Homo sapiens: one gene and its partner. The protein of the gene in region 2 purifies or fractionates together with the protein of the main gene of each other region. This does not show direct contact. Each region holds a gene or a part of one and is shown on either strand. Other genes may lie near its edges.

Evidence for each region.
Region 1: the proteins of FOXQ1 (region 2) and TLE3 purify together in Homo sapiens (affinity purification with mass spectrometry; 2 studies listed by BioGRID and IntAct, with this or other methods). This does not show direct contact.

Annotation. Positions count from the first base shown.
Region 1 is NC_000015.10:70,059,735-70,066,943, forward strand, and holds part of TLE3 (transducin-like enhancer protein 3), read right to left. Parts: intron 6,485-7,209; coding exon 6,280-6,484; intron 4,737-6,279; coding exon 4,720-4,736; intron 916-4,719; coding exon 796-915; intron 1-795. UniProt on the Homo sapiens protein: Transcriptional corepressor that binds to a number of transcription factors. Inhibits the transcriptional activation mediated by CTNNB1 and TCF family members in Wnt signaling.
Region 2 is NC_000006.12:1,307,075-1,315,117, reverse strand, and holds FOXQ1 (forkhead box protein Q1), read right to left. Parts: upstream 3,021-8,043; 5' UTR 2,414-3,020; coding exon 1,202-2,413; 3' UTR 360-1,201; downstream 1-359. UniProt on the Homo sapiens protein: Plays a role in hair follicle differentiation.

The DNA.
Region 1 (7,209 bases), on a different chromosome or scaffold from region 2:
TAAGCCCCTGCCCCCACAGCCTGCCCTTCTGCTTCTCTCTGAAGCCAGAACCTTCTTCCCAGCTGGTTTTACATCCACCATCCTTCACAGTCAGTGTGCTGCTCTCACCTGGTCATTCCCACCCATCTGTGTGGGATAGTAACTTGCCTCCTCTCACAGAAACACAGCTGAGTGTCCTTTGGGTGCTCAATGTGTCCAAAGCCACACAGCAGCCATGTGGCTGAAGAGGGCTGGGTGCAAGACCGCTGAGGCCCTGCACCATATCCTCCCCTTCCCTCTGTCCCAGCTCTCAGCCCTGCACAGCCTGACACAGGGGAAACACAACAGCCATGCTTCCACTAGGGTCTCACGTGCCGGGGGCATCCCATTAAAAGGCTAGTAAAAGCCATGACTGGGTGGCCAAGTGAGTGCATGCCTCAGGCCAACTGAGAGGACTATAGGGTCCACATTTTGGGGGTCACTGGGAGCAGCCCCTTAGAGCCAAGTGGGATTCCGGCAGCACCATGACAGCAGCATGGGGTTGTTGGCCTGTCTGTGGGAAGAGACCCCATGGAGGCTAGGACGACCTCCCCATCCACCTCCGCCCCACAGTGGCTCGCATGCTCATAGCGTGTGTGAACTTCACCCTAGCCCTGTTCCCACCCTGCTCTCCTCAATAGGGTCCCCTATCGCCAACCTGTGCTTCTCTGACTCACTGCCAACCACAAGAAGACCCTGGCCACAGCTTGGGCCCTGCAGACACCCCCTGCCCTACCCAACAGAAACCCCAGTGGTGCCATGGCGCCTTGGACGTACGTATCGGCTCAAGCTGTCCTTCTCCTCCGCCTTCCGCTTCTTGGCTTCCATGCTGTAGTCCGCAGAGCCCCGGTGCTTCTCACTGGCCCGGAGGCTTTCCGAGGGTGACACAGAGTTATTCTGGAAGGAAAAAGAGGGTTCGGGGTTAAAACTTTCTGCTGCGTGTAACAATTCACACATCCGCACACAGCTAAGTGCAGGTGACACGGAGGTCAGGGGAGGGAAGAGAAGCTGAACTCCTCTCTGCCCTGCAGATCGTGGCTCCATCAGAGCCTTGCCAGGGAAGCCTTCCCCACTCCCCTGAGACTGAGTCCCCGGGGAGATGCCCTGGGCGCATCCCCAATTCTCTTTTGCAGCTCTGCACTGCTATTAAATAATTAACCCTGCAGTAAGCCGTCTGCCTTCTGGCCTGTGGGACTACGCTCTGTGAGGGCGAGGGTCACCTGGGTCTCATTCACCACCCATCTCGCGCTTGCCACACTCATTTGCTCAAAGGAGGGATAAGTGGAATTTGCACTGAGTCTTGTAAGATGGATCTGAGCTGACAGGCAGGGGCCATGAGCAATACTTCATTTGCTGAGCCCGACAGGAATGGGGAGATTGATAGGGAAGGAGGGCGTCAGGCAGCCACCAACTTCCCAGTGGAGATGAGCAGCCAAGCGTTCTGTGTGAACACCCCCGCCTCCACGGTGAGGCTGTCAGCAACTCTGGAGAAACACCAGGGTTGTAAAAAAAACAAAAATGCCACGTCATGAAGCCTTTCCCTCTGACAGACAGGGAAAGGAGCAAGGGCAGGGACAGTCACTGCCTCTGTAGCCATCACCAAGTGGAGACCCCAAGAGGTTGGTGAATGTGCCCAAGCTCCCCTAGCAGAAGGTGGCACAAAGGGAACCCCAAAATTTCGTGAGTTCTCCCTCAACTATAAAGCAAATGAGGATGAGAAGCCTTTGGGATGGGAGGCCTGGGAAGAGGGAAGATGACGGAGTAGTCCTAGGGGTTGATAGTGGTCAGAAATCACCATGTGGCTGTTACCACCGAGCTGGGGAGCAGGGAGGGAAGTGCAACTGGCAAGGGCACCTGCCAGCAAACCTCTGTGCCCAGAGACTAATATCAGGACCAATGCCCCTCTATGATATTGGTGAGGTTTACTCCTTTCTAAGAGTCCAAACTTTACCTTCACCCACCCACCAATTTCCGAGCAGCTGCCCTGGGTCAGCCCTGGTGCTGCAGGCCAGGAGTGGCAGAATGAATGAGATACAATCCCTGCCCTCCAGGAGCTCATGGTCCAGCTATGATGGAGCTGGAAGAAAAGGACAGGCCATCCCAGGTCCCAGTCCCCATGCAACACAGGAGGTCATATGGAGACCCAGAGGGACATCTGTTCAGAAGAGAAGAGCATCAGAAGGCAAGTGGAATGAGGCTTCCCTTCTCTTCTCCACTTTCCCAGAGGCCAAGCGTGGCTCAGGGGCAAGGGCCACTTGGAGGGAACGGGGCTGGGCAGTATTCGGTGGGAATAGTGCGGCAACCAGCCTCAGAACTTAATTTCCTTTCCTAAGCCGGGTTCTGGGCAGCCCTACCCGGCCAAGTTTCTGCCCGAAGCAAATTAAAATGGCAGAGTTATCAAGCCTTGAAGAAAAAATGGAGGTTATAATGGAACTGCAGCTCAACCTTCCCCACAGCCGTGCAGGAGCGGTGGCGATGCGCGCACAGCCACAATTCAATTAGCTGCTGCAATCGCCGGCAGAAAAATCACCGTCATTTCATTTCATTTCCTCTGACGGTGGTGGCCACCCTGTGCTAAGCAGAAATGCTTCCAGCCCCTCGCACTGGCTGCCCCTTGCAGGCGGGCGGGCAGGGGAGGGGGCGTGCGGCTGCTCGTGTTTCTCCTCGCGACCCGGTGCTCGGCTCGGGAGAACAGCGAGCTCTTTCTTCTCATGCAGTCAGGCTGAAAACCCTCGCCGCTACCGGAGAGTCATGTCAGGCATTTAGCGGCATCGATCCAGCCCGCCTCTGGCTGGCAGGCGGCCAAAAAACTAAGTATTTTTTATTGCTTCGGCTAGGCAAGGAAATATGAATGAAGCTACCACTAATTGGACTCCAGACTAACCCCTCTGGGACAGCTTCCAGCCCGTCCCCCCATCCCCCCTCCCACTCTGACACAGCCCTGTCCTTCCTGCCGTAGGCCTCATCTGTTGACAACCTGGTTTCCAAAGCCTGATTATTTCAGTCTACACCGCCGCTGACACCGTCACCACGCCACATGCCATGCGCACAGCCTCGGCCCTGCCCACTGCTGCCTCTGCCCAGCATCTTGATTCATTCCCACTGGAGTTTCCTGAGGCCCATGTGTGCCATGCATGGACCTCAGCGAGCATGGTAAACAGCCCAGCTCTTGGGGGTTCCCAGGGGGGGTCTTTTAGCAGAAAACTTTCACAGATGGGGCACAAAGCCAGAAGCCAATAGGGATGAGGATGAGGTAAAGACTCATGCTCTTTAGAGAGTGCTGGGCTTCCCACTCCCCCTCCAATTCCACTGAAGTGGGTCCCTGCTAGCCAGGTAATCTGGATCCTCAGTCAGGTTATAAAGGGTCTTCCGAAACAAAGCTGAGAGGTTGGTCAAGCAGGAATTATTCCCATGGTATGGATAAGGAAACTGAGGCTCAGAGAGGCCAAGAGAACTACACAGGGCCTCATAAAGCTGGGACCAGACCTCAGCCTTAAAATGTCCAATCCAGGCCTCCGCCTATCTAGGCAAACTGCCTCTCCGAAAAAATGCCACTGTTAGAGGATCAGTACCGAGGCAGTGAACATGGATTTTCAGCTTCAATGACTCCTCTCTTAGGTACCTAGCCATTCCTCAGCCCAAATGTGGTCCTGGATTTCTGAGCATGTAGGCGGGTCAAGAGGCCACGGACGCCAGCCTCACTGCTAATGGGAGGTTTAAAAAGTCAGCCTGGGTAGGGGGAGGGCCAGGAAGGGAAGGAGGGCTGGATTGGAGAGAGCTGCGCAAGGAAGCTGCTGTCTAGATGGTTAGTTAACTGCCTGACCTTCCAAGTCCTACTTAACACGAGGTAATAACCAAAGCCATCCTAACAGATTAGATGGCCCCAGATACAAGGACAGCGATGAGGAATAAAATAGCTTTGCTAATCGCTGGAGGATTTTTTTTATCCAGACTCCACTGCGCTTATTCAGAAGGCTTATTCACTTGAAACAGAACCTCGGAGCCTCAGTGTGATCAGAAAGATTTACAACAAATCTCAGAGCTGGCAGACACGCAGGCGGCCTGGCCTTAATGCTCGCCTGCTAGCACTTTCTTAAATCGAGTGAAAGCCCAGAGCAGGGAGAAACTGCAGGCGTTTGAAGGGAATGAGGAGGATGCAAGATCATACAGGAGGCATCCTAGCAGGGGGGTGGTAAAAACCTTGGCCCTGAACATGGGACACCTGGGTCCTTAGCCCTGGGTTTAGCCCAGAGACTCCACAAAGCCCCTCGCAATGGAAGATCCAGGGCTGGTCAGCTGACCTCTCAGAGTATCACCTCTCATATGAAACGGAGTTAGAGCTCATTTAGCCCAAGCTCTTCATTTGACAAATGGCAGACCTAAAGCCTGGAGAGAGGAAGGGCTTCCACAACTGAAGGTCACTCTCAACAGGTGACGACAGCAGCTCCCATTTTATGACAGTAGCTACCCCTCACCCTGCCACTGGCTCTGGACTAAGACATCAGCACTGAAGCTCCCAGCTCAGCAAGAGTAAACAAACAACAAAATCCCTAGTTACAACCCACAGAGCAGAAGCGGGAACCCAGAAGCCAGCTTTGGATACCGACTGACTGGTCTCAGGCCCGCGATTCTGGGAGCCCCGAGTCCCACCTCCTCCCAGCACCCAAACACCCCTCCGGGTTCCAGAGTGCCAACACTTACCGCACTGGATTCTCTCTCTTTGGGGAAAGAAGGCCAGGACAGGAGGAAGGTCAGGCACCCCAAAACAAAAAGACAAAAAAGAAAGGAAAAAGGTCAGTCTAAGTCCAGCTGGCTTTTGTGATTTGCTAGTGCACTGGTTTTAAAATGAGCAGAAGGCCTGGATTGCTGTCTCCGTGGATCAGCCAAGGCAGGGCCATTAGGTGGCGTTTCTCGGTTTGGAAATTTGCCACCCAAATTCCAATGCTGCCCCCACCCCTCTAGTCCCCAGGGTGGGCAAGGGAGGCCCAGTCCCCAGGGTGGGGAGGGTAGGCCTTTGACCCAGTTCTCCCTGTCATGCCAGAGGGCACCAAGTTTACTCTTTAGCAGGCTAGGGGTCTTAAGATCACAAGCTTGAGAAGGATCATGCCATATAAAATACCAGTAGGACCTGGGAGTTAAGAACTTTATTGTTAAAAAAAAAAAAAAAAAAAGGAATTTAACAGTGGTTTAATTTTGTTTTTGAAATTAACACCATTCTGTGATTCTTTGTCAGGATGCCCCTAAAAGCTGAAGCCTCTGAAACTGTGCCCAGCTAAGCACTAGCTCCCCAGTTCTCCTGTCTGCTATGGAGAGGCCCCTCTTCCTCTGCCAAAAGGACCATCCTACTGTAAGACAAAAAAATGTAGCCTCCAGTTCCCTGGACCGGCTACCACCCTGTGGCCTGGGCCAAGGCAGGATGGTGACATTCCAGGTCCCTAGTGCTCAGAAGGTGTTGGCTACGTGCCCCAGTAAATACCGTATCTAAGGGCAGAGTGCATTTGGCACCAATTTTTGAAAAGGGCCTCCCAGGGAGCCAGGCTTTTCTCTTTTCTGATCCAATGAACCACTCCTGAGGCCAAGCTCGGTGCAGCTTCATGGGTCCTCATGGTAGGGGCTGCAGAGAGGGTCAGAGAACAAGTTCTGACTCCAAGTCTATGTGATCTCTTGCTGGGGTGTGCACTACCCCCACTTACAGGCAGTCAGCTAACAAACCTTTACCTGAGCACTGACTGTGCACCTTTCCCAGGTTTCTGCATTGGTGAGACATAGATGTAAGGAAAACACCCAAGAACTTGGCACCTGTCCTAGGGAACTAATGATCGTGGTGAGCACAAGACATTTTCCAGGGGTAGGATGTAAGACGACAGTAACAAGGACTCAACTTTGGCATCCCAACTCTTAAACTCTTACAGGAACTTGAAAAAGCCCCTAGTCTGACCAGGAAGGCATCCTGAAGGGTTGGACTGGGGCTGGCCCCTGAAGGACAGGCAAGGGTGTTGTAGGAAGATGGGAGCGAGCTCCAGATGAACAGACAGGGTCTTCAGGACAGAGAATACCAGGTCCACACCAAGGAGTAGGAAAAGGTGCATGGGATGCGGATGGCATTGGCTTCCCTGCACCAGGTATCAACAGATGACTCCAAATCCTTGGTAACTCCTGGTCTTAGGACGACAGCACTTGCTGGGTCCACTCACTGTGAGGCCTATGAGCGCCCATGCCCACCCCTGCCCCGCCCCACCCTCTGCCCCAGCCCAGCCGCACCTCTGTGATCGAGTTCATGGTGGTTCTTCTCATCCTTCACCGTCAGATGGGCCTGGCTGCCCAGGGCGCCCAGTGCCAGCAGCCCGGAGCTGCTCCCTGTCACTGGGGGGATTCCTGGAGGCTGGAGACCTGACGGGTGGGGTGGCAACTGGACCGGGGGGCCGTGTGTGGCATGGGAGAGGTGCTGCGCCTGGAGCTGCTGCTGCTGCAATGAAGTCGGTGGTGAGTACAGCTGAGTTGGGGAGGGCAGGGGAGGCGTGGCCACCTCAGGAGGGAGGGAGGGAGTGGCTCTTCCCATTCCTCTTGCTCCTTCACTGGGTGGGTGGCAGGGGGAAGCACCCCCAAAACCTTTGCCCCCAGCTCAGTTCACATGAATGTCTCGCTGAAGGAAGTCTGTTAATAGACTGTAATGTAAAGATTTATGTCTTCAAGCACCCCCCAACTCCCTGCACCCCCGTTTCACAAATAATTTCTCAATGTTTGTTTCCAAGCCTGAGATAAAGAATGCATGCATTTAAAAAACCGCAGAGTCATGGGGTTCCCTCTGAGTAGAGAGGGATCCATTTTTAAGCTCACAGCCCTGGCAGTGTTTGCTCATGCATACATGCCTTCAGCATTAGCTGCCAGCATCTTCCACCCTGAGGCTGGACCCTGGGGAAGGCTCCTTATTTCTTAGGAACTCCAAGCCTGCCTTACAGAGCAGGGGCAGGGCAGGTCATCACAGCAAAGGCCCCAGAGCCAGATGAGCTGGGGGCCAGTGGAATGAGAGCTAACGTCACCGGACATCAGTGGTGGAAAACGGGGTAACTGGAAGAGTGGAGGCTTTGGAACTAGACAGAACAGGATTGAAATCCCAGCTCTGGCACTTCCTAGCTGTGTGGCCTGGGGCAGGTTACTTCAAGTCCTGGAGCCTCAAATTTCCTTATCTGT
Region 2 (8,043 bases):
CAATTTACCTGAAAATATCTGTTTGACTCTAGGCTTGTTAAGAACTCAACTTGCCTGCTAAGGATTCTTGGGGGAGAGAGGGACACTTCCCTCTCATTTGTTCTGGAAGCACTTAGGTGACTAATTAGAGGAGTAATTGGTTTTCAACTTTTAAAAAGCCCATGAATGGAAGTCCTATCTGGAAATCTGTCTAGCAATGCATCTCATACGGAAATCTGCAAGCCCATTCTATAATACCTTTATCGAATTATTCAGGAAAATATTTTTATCTCCAGAGGAAGTTTCTTGAGACCAAAACCTGAGCCCATTTTTTTGGGAGGGGGGACAGACATAAAAATCTCTCCACTTCCAACCCATCATCACAATGTGTTAAGTCAGTTGTTTTATTAAAAAATAAGCACTATGCTTGGGTTTCATAAAATTTATACATGAATATGTACACAGACACAAATAAAATAATATTAAAAATAAAAATCACACTTGCTTTCAAGGCAGTGGTCCTGGCACCCCACATACATAATCAACTTTTCCTTTAAAGAAATTGCTTGGCCCAAGGAGACCACAGTTAGAGAACCACTAATAAAGCTGTAGCCCGTTGCCTGCAACATTTTCAATTCGGGTTTCAAAAATATATAAATAATTTAATTACAAAACCCAACATTTTTTTTCTCTTTTGGCACAGTGAAGCATCGGTCAATAGCAAGAAATCACTGAAGAGCCTCTGACATGTCTCTCACACTCAGTCATACCTGGAAATGCCACATACGTACACGGATGGGGGCCCAGAAACCCCAAACAGTAGTCATATCATTTATAGTGTGGAAAGGTTCCCTGATGTACTTAGGGGGGAGGGAAGGGACATAAATCAATGGAAGTTGCGACAAAAACAGTAGAAATAAGACGAAGCCTGGGCGTTAAAGAAAGACAAAAAAAGTCCTTATGAAGGGAAGGAGGAGCAGGCTTCGCAAAGAAACTAAAACAAGAATTGCTTTGGTCCTCTGTAAAGTTATAAAACACAAAGGAAAATATCCTGGACTAAGTTTAAATACTCCTGTCAAAATGCTTTAGCTTTAAGGCACGTTTGATGGAGATTTTAAAAATTCATCTTCCTCTGGATTCAAAGTGCAAAGTCCGCGCGCGGGCCCGCGTTCCCGCCTCCCCGACGGCGCGCACTCGGCGTTCCCGGGCCCCGCGGCGCTACTCAGGCTAGGAGCGTCTCCACCGGGTACGGCAGGTGCGGGCCAGGGCGGCGGACTGAGGCCGCCTGCAGGGCTGCGGGCAGCCGCAGGGGGCAGTACAGGTGCGCGCCGCCGGCCGCCGGGCCTCGGAGTGGCTTGGCGGGGGCCGCCGCCGGGAGAGGTGCAAGCAGGAGGGGCGGCGCGGTCGGTGGCACCTCGGCCTCGCGCGCGCCCAGCCGCGCCGGCTCGCCCGCGCCGTACGCGCAGAGCGGCAGCAGGGCCCTGCAGGGCGCCGCGGGGAGGAGCGCGGGGAACGCGGGCAGCGGCGGGCAGGGCGCGGCGCCCCACTGAAGCGTCGTCCCGGGGGCCGTGTCCCTGAGGCGGCGGCTGCGGAAGGGCTTGCGCAGGATGCTGTCGATGGCGAAGGAGCTGGAGAACTTGCCCGCGGGGCTGGCGCGCTCCTCCTGGCGGGCGGGCGAGCGCATGCGGGGCGAGGCCGGGGCGGCGGGCGCGGGCGGCGGGGCGGCGGGGAGGCCCGGGGCCTCCTCGGGCCGCAGCCCGGGCGCGGGGACCGGCGCGCGGTGGCTGAGGCGCTTGCGGCGGCGGCGGAAGACCCCGTCGGCGAAGGTGTACTCGCTGTTGGGGTTGAGCATCCAGTAGTTGTCCTTGCCCCAGGGCCGCGAGGGGTCGCGCAGCACCTTGACGAAGCAGTCGTTGAGCGAAAGGTTGTGGCGCACGGAGTTGCGCCAGCCCGTGTAGCTGCCGCGGAAAAAGGGGAACTTGCCCATGAGGTACTCGTTGATCTCCGCCAGCGTCAAGCGCCCGCCCGCCGAGTCGCGGATGGCCATGGCGATGAGCGCGATGTACGAGTAGGGGGGCTTGGGCCGCCGCGTATATGGCTTGCTGCGTGCACCCTCGCCGCTCCCCGCGCCGCCCGCGCCTGGCCCCGCCGCCCCGGCCTCCGCGCCCTCCGCCACCACCGCTGCAGCAGCTGCTGCCGGGATCGCCTCCTCCGCGCCCGGCCCGCCTCCCGCACTCTGTTCGCCGTCGCCCTGCGTATCTCTGGCGCCGCCGCCCGCGGCCGGGCTGTTGGCCGCGCAGTCCCCATCTGAGCCCAGGGAGTCGTCTCCCGCCGCCGACAGCGGGGACGGCGCGTCGCTGCCGCCCGCGCCCTCCAGGTCACTGCCCTGCTTGTCCCCGTGGGCCGCGCGAGGGACGAACACCTCCAACTTCATGCCCGCGCACCCAGTCCCTCCCCGGCGTCGTACCCTCTTCCTTCGCGCAGCCTAGAGAAGCTGGTGCCAGGGAAGGGGATGGCGATCCGGGGCCGGGGATCTTCGCCTTTTTCTCCCGGGAGCTCTACCCTGGTCTTCCGAGATAGTCACTTTTCCGGAGTCCTCTTCCGCTGGGCTTTTTCTCTGGAGGGGCTGCAAGTGTTGGGTGGACTATGGGGCGGAGAGGGAGGAGTTGGGTGGGTGTCGCCTTCGGTTCGACGTTGAGACTTTGGGGTGAGTGTGTGCAGGGGCCGCGGTTCCACCCTCGGGTGCCCGAGCACGCCGGGCTTAGAAGGCTTTCCTGCCGGAGAGAAGCAGCATGCGCATCTGCTGCTCGTTAAAGAGCCCAGGAGGGGTTCTTCACTGGCGGTCCCAGGTCCCGCGCGGGCGTCTTCGGGGCACGGAAATGGTGCCGGATGATGTGCGTGCCACCGTGGGGGAAGGTCCGGCGCCTTCAGCCTTGAGCACCCGCGGAGGCGAGTCCCCGAGGCCGCTGCGCCCGCAGCCGCCTTCCCGCTCCCAGCCTCCGGGGCAGCATCTCCCCGCTGGCCTGCCGCGGCTGCGTCTCGCCTCCACCTTCGGGCCGGCCCAATATAACCCTGCGGCGGCTCCGCGGGGGCGGGGCCTGAGCGCGGACGGCAAGGGGTGGGGGAACGAGGTGGCCGAGGTGGTGGCGGCTCCCCAGTTCCCCAGCTCCCCAACGGGCGCGCACCAGGCGGAGGCCACACTGCAGCGCGGCGGCAAAGTCGCTGGCGCAGGTTGTTTGTTTTGGGTCGGCCGGCCCCGCCTTCCTCCTCCCGCCAATGGGGAGCGCGCGCGCCGCTGTGGGTTTGCGCGTGTCTGTGAGTGTGCGTGTGTGCGCGCGCGGGGCCGCTCCGCCAGCCGGCTCCTCCGTTCAGGTGTGGGCCCCAGCCCCGGGCAGCCCGCGAGGGCTCCCTGCGCCCTGGAGTTCGGGGACGCAGTTTAGGCGAGTGCGCCTGGTTGGGGGGACACGCCACAGTTCCCCTAGGGGGACACCTGAAGGGACTGGGTCTAGGGGAGCAGGGACTTTGCTCGGGCCTAAGCTGCACGCGGCGTATGTGCTTCTGTAGTAGTGAAAACGATGCTGCTTACGAAAGCAAACCCCTGTCGTCACTGCAGAGGTGCTGAACAGAAATTGCGCAGGACACTTGCAGTGACCTCTTTCGGGAGCCTTGTGCTGTGCCCCTTCCTATGAGCTCCTTTCAAGGACCATCTTGTCTTTTCCTCTTGTTTTAATGAATGCACTCCTGGGCTTGAAATTGTATGCGCCTTTTTGGATGACCTTTACTCTTGCTCACTAAATGGGCTCCGACTTTCACTTTTCTTTGTCTTACTTTACCTTTTTCTTTACCTGGCTGGTGACTCCTGCGGGAGGACAGCAGCGTCCTCCTCTTCCCCTGGGGCGGCTGTGTCTGGCGCAGGGTGCTGGGCTGTGCCTGCACTTGTGTCCCTGCGGAAGCCTCAGATGCCGCCGAGCTCCGCCGCTTGGTTCCCGGGATCTGACAGTCAACAGGAACGACGGAGAGGGCGTGTTCCCGGGGGCGGGGGCAAGAACAAACCGGTTCACGGCCATTTCTTTCCAATATTCCTTTGGGACTTTTGCTGTGACCTCACTGGCACCAGTGTCGGACAATCTCGAAAGGGGGGACCGTTCCTCACCCCAGGGCGCCCGGGGCGTGATCCCCACGCGGCGTCATTAGTCCAGGGAGCGGGCGCCTCGGCCCCGGGAAGGTGCACTTCCAGCCCGCTGCCCTGCCACGCCGAGTTTCCTCCTTTTTCCTGCCTTTGTTGCACAAAAAGCGACGGAGCCGCTAGTAGGTGGGAGCTCACCTTTGATGTTTATTTTATTACTTTCCACCATTTGTGTTGAAAACGTACACAATCCTCTCTTATCTTTATTCAGGGAGTTTTGAAGCCATTCACAATGGGGCGGGCAACATGACAGCCCCAGCCACAGCTCTGTTATTTTTGTATTTGGGGAAGGATCGCGTTCGGAGATTAGACTGACTTTATTAAGTATGCGCCTCGGGAGCCAGGTGGGGAATGGCTGCTTTTTGGGAGATGAGCCTTTCTGGAGGGGTCTGCTCAGCTCTAGCCTTGGAGTTGATGGTTCACTAGACCTGGAGAGGGAAGTGGGATGAGACAAATATGTATATCTATATATATATAGCGAGGTAAAGAGGCTTGGATTTGGCCAGGGATAAAAGGCGTTCGTAATGAATGTTTTTCTCTCTTGAACTCTGGGGTTGGGCAGGGCAGGAGGGCACATGACTATTTGATGGGGAAGGTAAAGCCAAGGAGGCTTGAGGTGGGACCCGTGGTCGCTACAGAGTCCAAGGGAGGCCTCTTCGAGACTCCAGGGCCAAGGTGTCCTGCCACCAAGGAATGCTGGTCGCCGCCAGGGAAGGTGGCTCACCCCACCTCCATGTCCCACTTTCCCCCTTTCTTACCCAACCTCCTCCCCTCCCCAGCTGCAGGGGATCCTCTCCTTACCCTGATTTCATTTGGGGCAAGGGGGGCAAGGACCTGCCCCACCTTTTATGTCTATCCTGTGGGCTGCTGTCTGCAAGTTTGGAGCCTGAAAAGGTTGGGGGGCAAGAGAGTGAGTTGGAGGTGGGTGAATTCTCAGCTGGAAACCCTTTGCTATTTTTAGAGTGACTTAGGGAATGGGCAGGTGAGAGGTTGCTTGCAGCCACCTAAGTGGACTTTGAGAAGGAAGATGGCATGGCAGGCCGTGGACCACCTGGATAGGATTAAAACAAAACAAAAACAAGCAAACAAACAAAAAAAAACCCTACCTCAGCTAGAATGGAAGCTCCACTAGAGCAGGGTTTTTTTCTTTTTTTCTTCATGACTGTATTCCCCTATCCTTGACACATGAATGTGCCATTTGCTGAGGATAACATGATTGTCTTCTGTTAAAACCAGAAATAACACTGCTTTTTCCATTTGTGGTTGATGTCGGTATCAATTTTAGCTGTTGTTTTACAGCGGGGAAATCATTCACCTTTTGCAGCTATCAGAGAAACCGAGAATGTATGGAGCAGGGCGTGTCTATCCACAACACCCTCAAGGCTGAATACAGTTGGGGAGACCAGACGCTGCCAGACGTCACATGCATTTTTTTAAAGTTTCCCAGAAGTGCTTGGATATTTCTGCCCCTTAATTCCCATTCCTTGGGGAGTACATTGATGGGTTAATAAAAAATGCCTGCAGGTGGAGCTTGACCAAACACTTGTAGGTAAGAAACACCTATTAGCTTATTTTCCCCCTTGCCCTTTAATTTCCATGGAGATAAGTGAATAAACTATGGCAAAAGATAAGTTCATATTTCCATGATCGTATGACCTCCCTGAAGTGGTGATTTTAGGAAGATAGTGCATGTATCTCTGGGCACAAAGTAACTTAATTAACTGTGGAAACTATCTGCAAATTTAACGCTTTCCATAATTTGATAGTGCTTCACTGACCCAGTTCCTAAACACTAATCTTGGGAAGAAAATAATTTAATTCCTAAAATACCTAAGGTGACTCCCTGTGGAAATATTGATGACTTGCCCTATGCATTAGAAGATCACGCAGGCTCCCAGCCCAAAGGGACTACAGAACAATCTTGATCACATCCACCCAGCAACCTGGAAACAGCTTTGAATTTCTTGTCGTGTTAACCTCTGGATCTGAAGAGAGGGTAAACTTAAAATTACCTTCCCATGGGGACCTGGGACTCTGGATGAATCTACAGTACAATGCTGTGAAGAACTGAAGAGCCTCAGGCTTAGAGACCAGGCTAATGTTGAGAGTCCCAGGGCAAAATGCATGGCTCTGAATCCTTGCAGAGTCTCCCTAGGGGCATGGAGAGGGCCCTGACTTGGGGCTCGAGGTCAGGTGGCAGTGAAGGGCCTCTACAGCGATAAAGCCCAGCTGCCTCTTTACCTTTCCTCATAGTGAAAATACATGGGAAGAAAAGGAGTGCTTTGTCCAACTCTGTTCTAGCCCATTTCATGGTCTGGTTGATTCTTTTGGTAGATGCTGAACACTGGAAAAATCCTGCAAGGATTGAAGGTGAGTGTGGAAGTAGACGGAGAAAACTTAGGCATTTTTACGTGTCTGTATTTTTGCTTCTTTCCAAAAATGTTTTAATAGGGTCAGGCTCATTTGTTTGTACATTTACCATGTTTGTTTGAACAGTCTTCTTTCGGTTTCTTGAGCAATGGGCATGGTTTAATCCAAGAATCTTAGAATTTGGCTGGGCATTACTGACCAGGTGCAAAACCAAGGGCTGTGCCTGAAGTTTTCTTTTGAGACCTCAGGAATTATAAGCAGCAAGAAAGCCACTGGGTACCCATTGAATTAAGTAGTTATTGGGAGGTGGGTCCTGGGGAGTGGAGAGAGGCAGGGAGGCAGGCCTGATAATGGTGGAAAAGAGAAAAAGAAGGATAAAAGGAGGAGCAAAGATGTGCAGATACAAAGCTAGATCATCTACAGTACGACGAAGGTTAGGGGTCATTGAGAATGCTGCCTGATTCTGTCACTCAGAGACGAAATCCTGCACACTCTAGCACCATGTGTGAAAATACCAATGTAGGAAGGAAAGGCCCGGGGCTGATTTGTTACAAGGTGACAGCTTAGATAGTGGGATCATGGAGTCCATTCTTCAGAACTGGCTAGATCTTAGGAACCTCATTGTCTAGTTTTAGTCCAGTTTTTCTATTACCTGAAGTTCTTTAAATTTTGAGTTTTACAAGCAGAACAAGGAGATTTAACTTCTGTTTGCAATGAGTGATCCAGTTCTCTCTTTTTAACTTTGAGGCTGTAACCATCCACAATAAATTAGTAATCAGACCTTTCCTGATATGTATCAAAGAAGGAGACTGTCTTTCTATGAAGAGAACTGACGCACATCCTTGGAGAGGGCTCCATCATCATACTGTCATACAAATCTGGGCAAAAGAGGGGCAAGTGCCAAATGAGATCCAGTTTGGATACATGAATATTAAGTTGTACAAAAAAAACAAGGTCTTTGCAGGGCTTCCTGTGGAGCTGGGGAAGGGTCTATGTCCCTTGTCTTGGCCAGTAGTCCCTCAAACCTGGATCCACAGTCTAGGTTTATGCATTTGGAGTGGATATGGCGGGGTTAACTCTCCCATTTAATTCCAGAGAAGGCATTACCACTCTAGGTAGGTGTGGGCTTTGGAGACAGATAACCTTGGGTTCGTATCTCTGCTCTACCAGGAAAGTTACCACACCTCACCTTTTTTAAATCTAGAAGAATAACAGTTATAGGGATTTTAAAAACTGAACTACTATGTTCTAGGCCCTTATTAAGTATTATTTATGTCTCTCCTTCCATTTCATACTTGGAAACTTATTTTGGAGGGGTATACTATCTTTGTAAGCCCAGATAGGCAAATTCTTCAGAATTAATCAACCAAGTAAACTTTCCGGGTAAAAACTGGAAAAGTGAAAAATAGTTCCTGGAGGAATGAGATATTTCTTGGGGTCATCTAATCCTAGTCTATGGCCAATACCTAGCCGGTGTTCCAGAAATAAAAAGGAAAGTCAGAACCCCT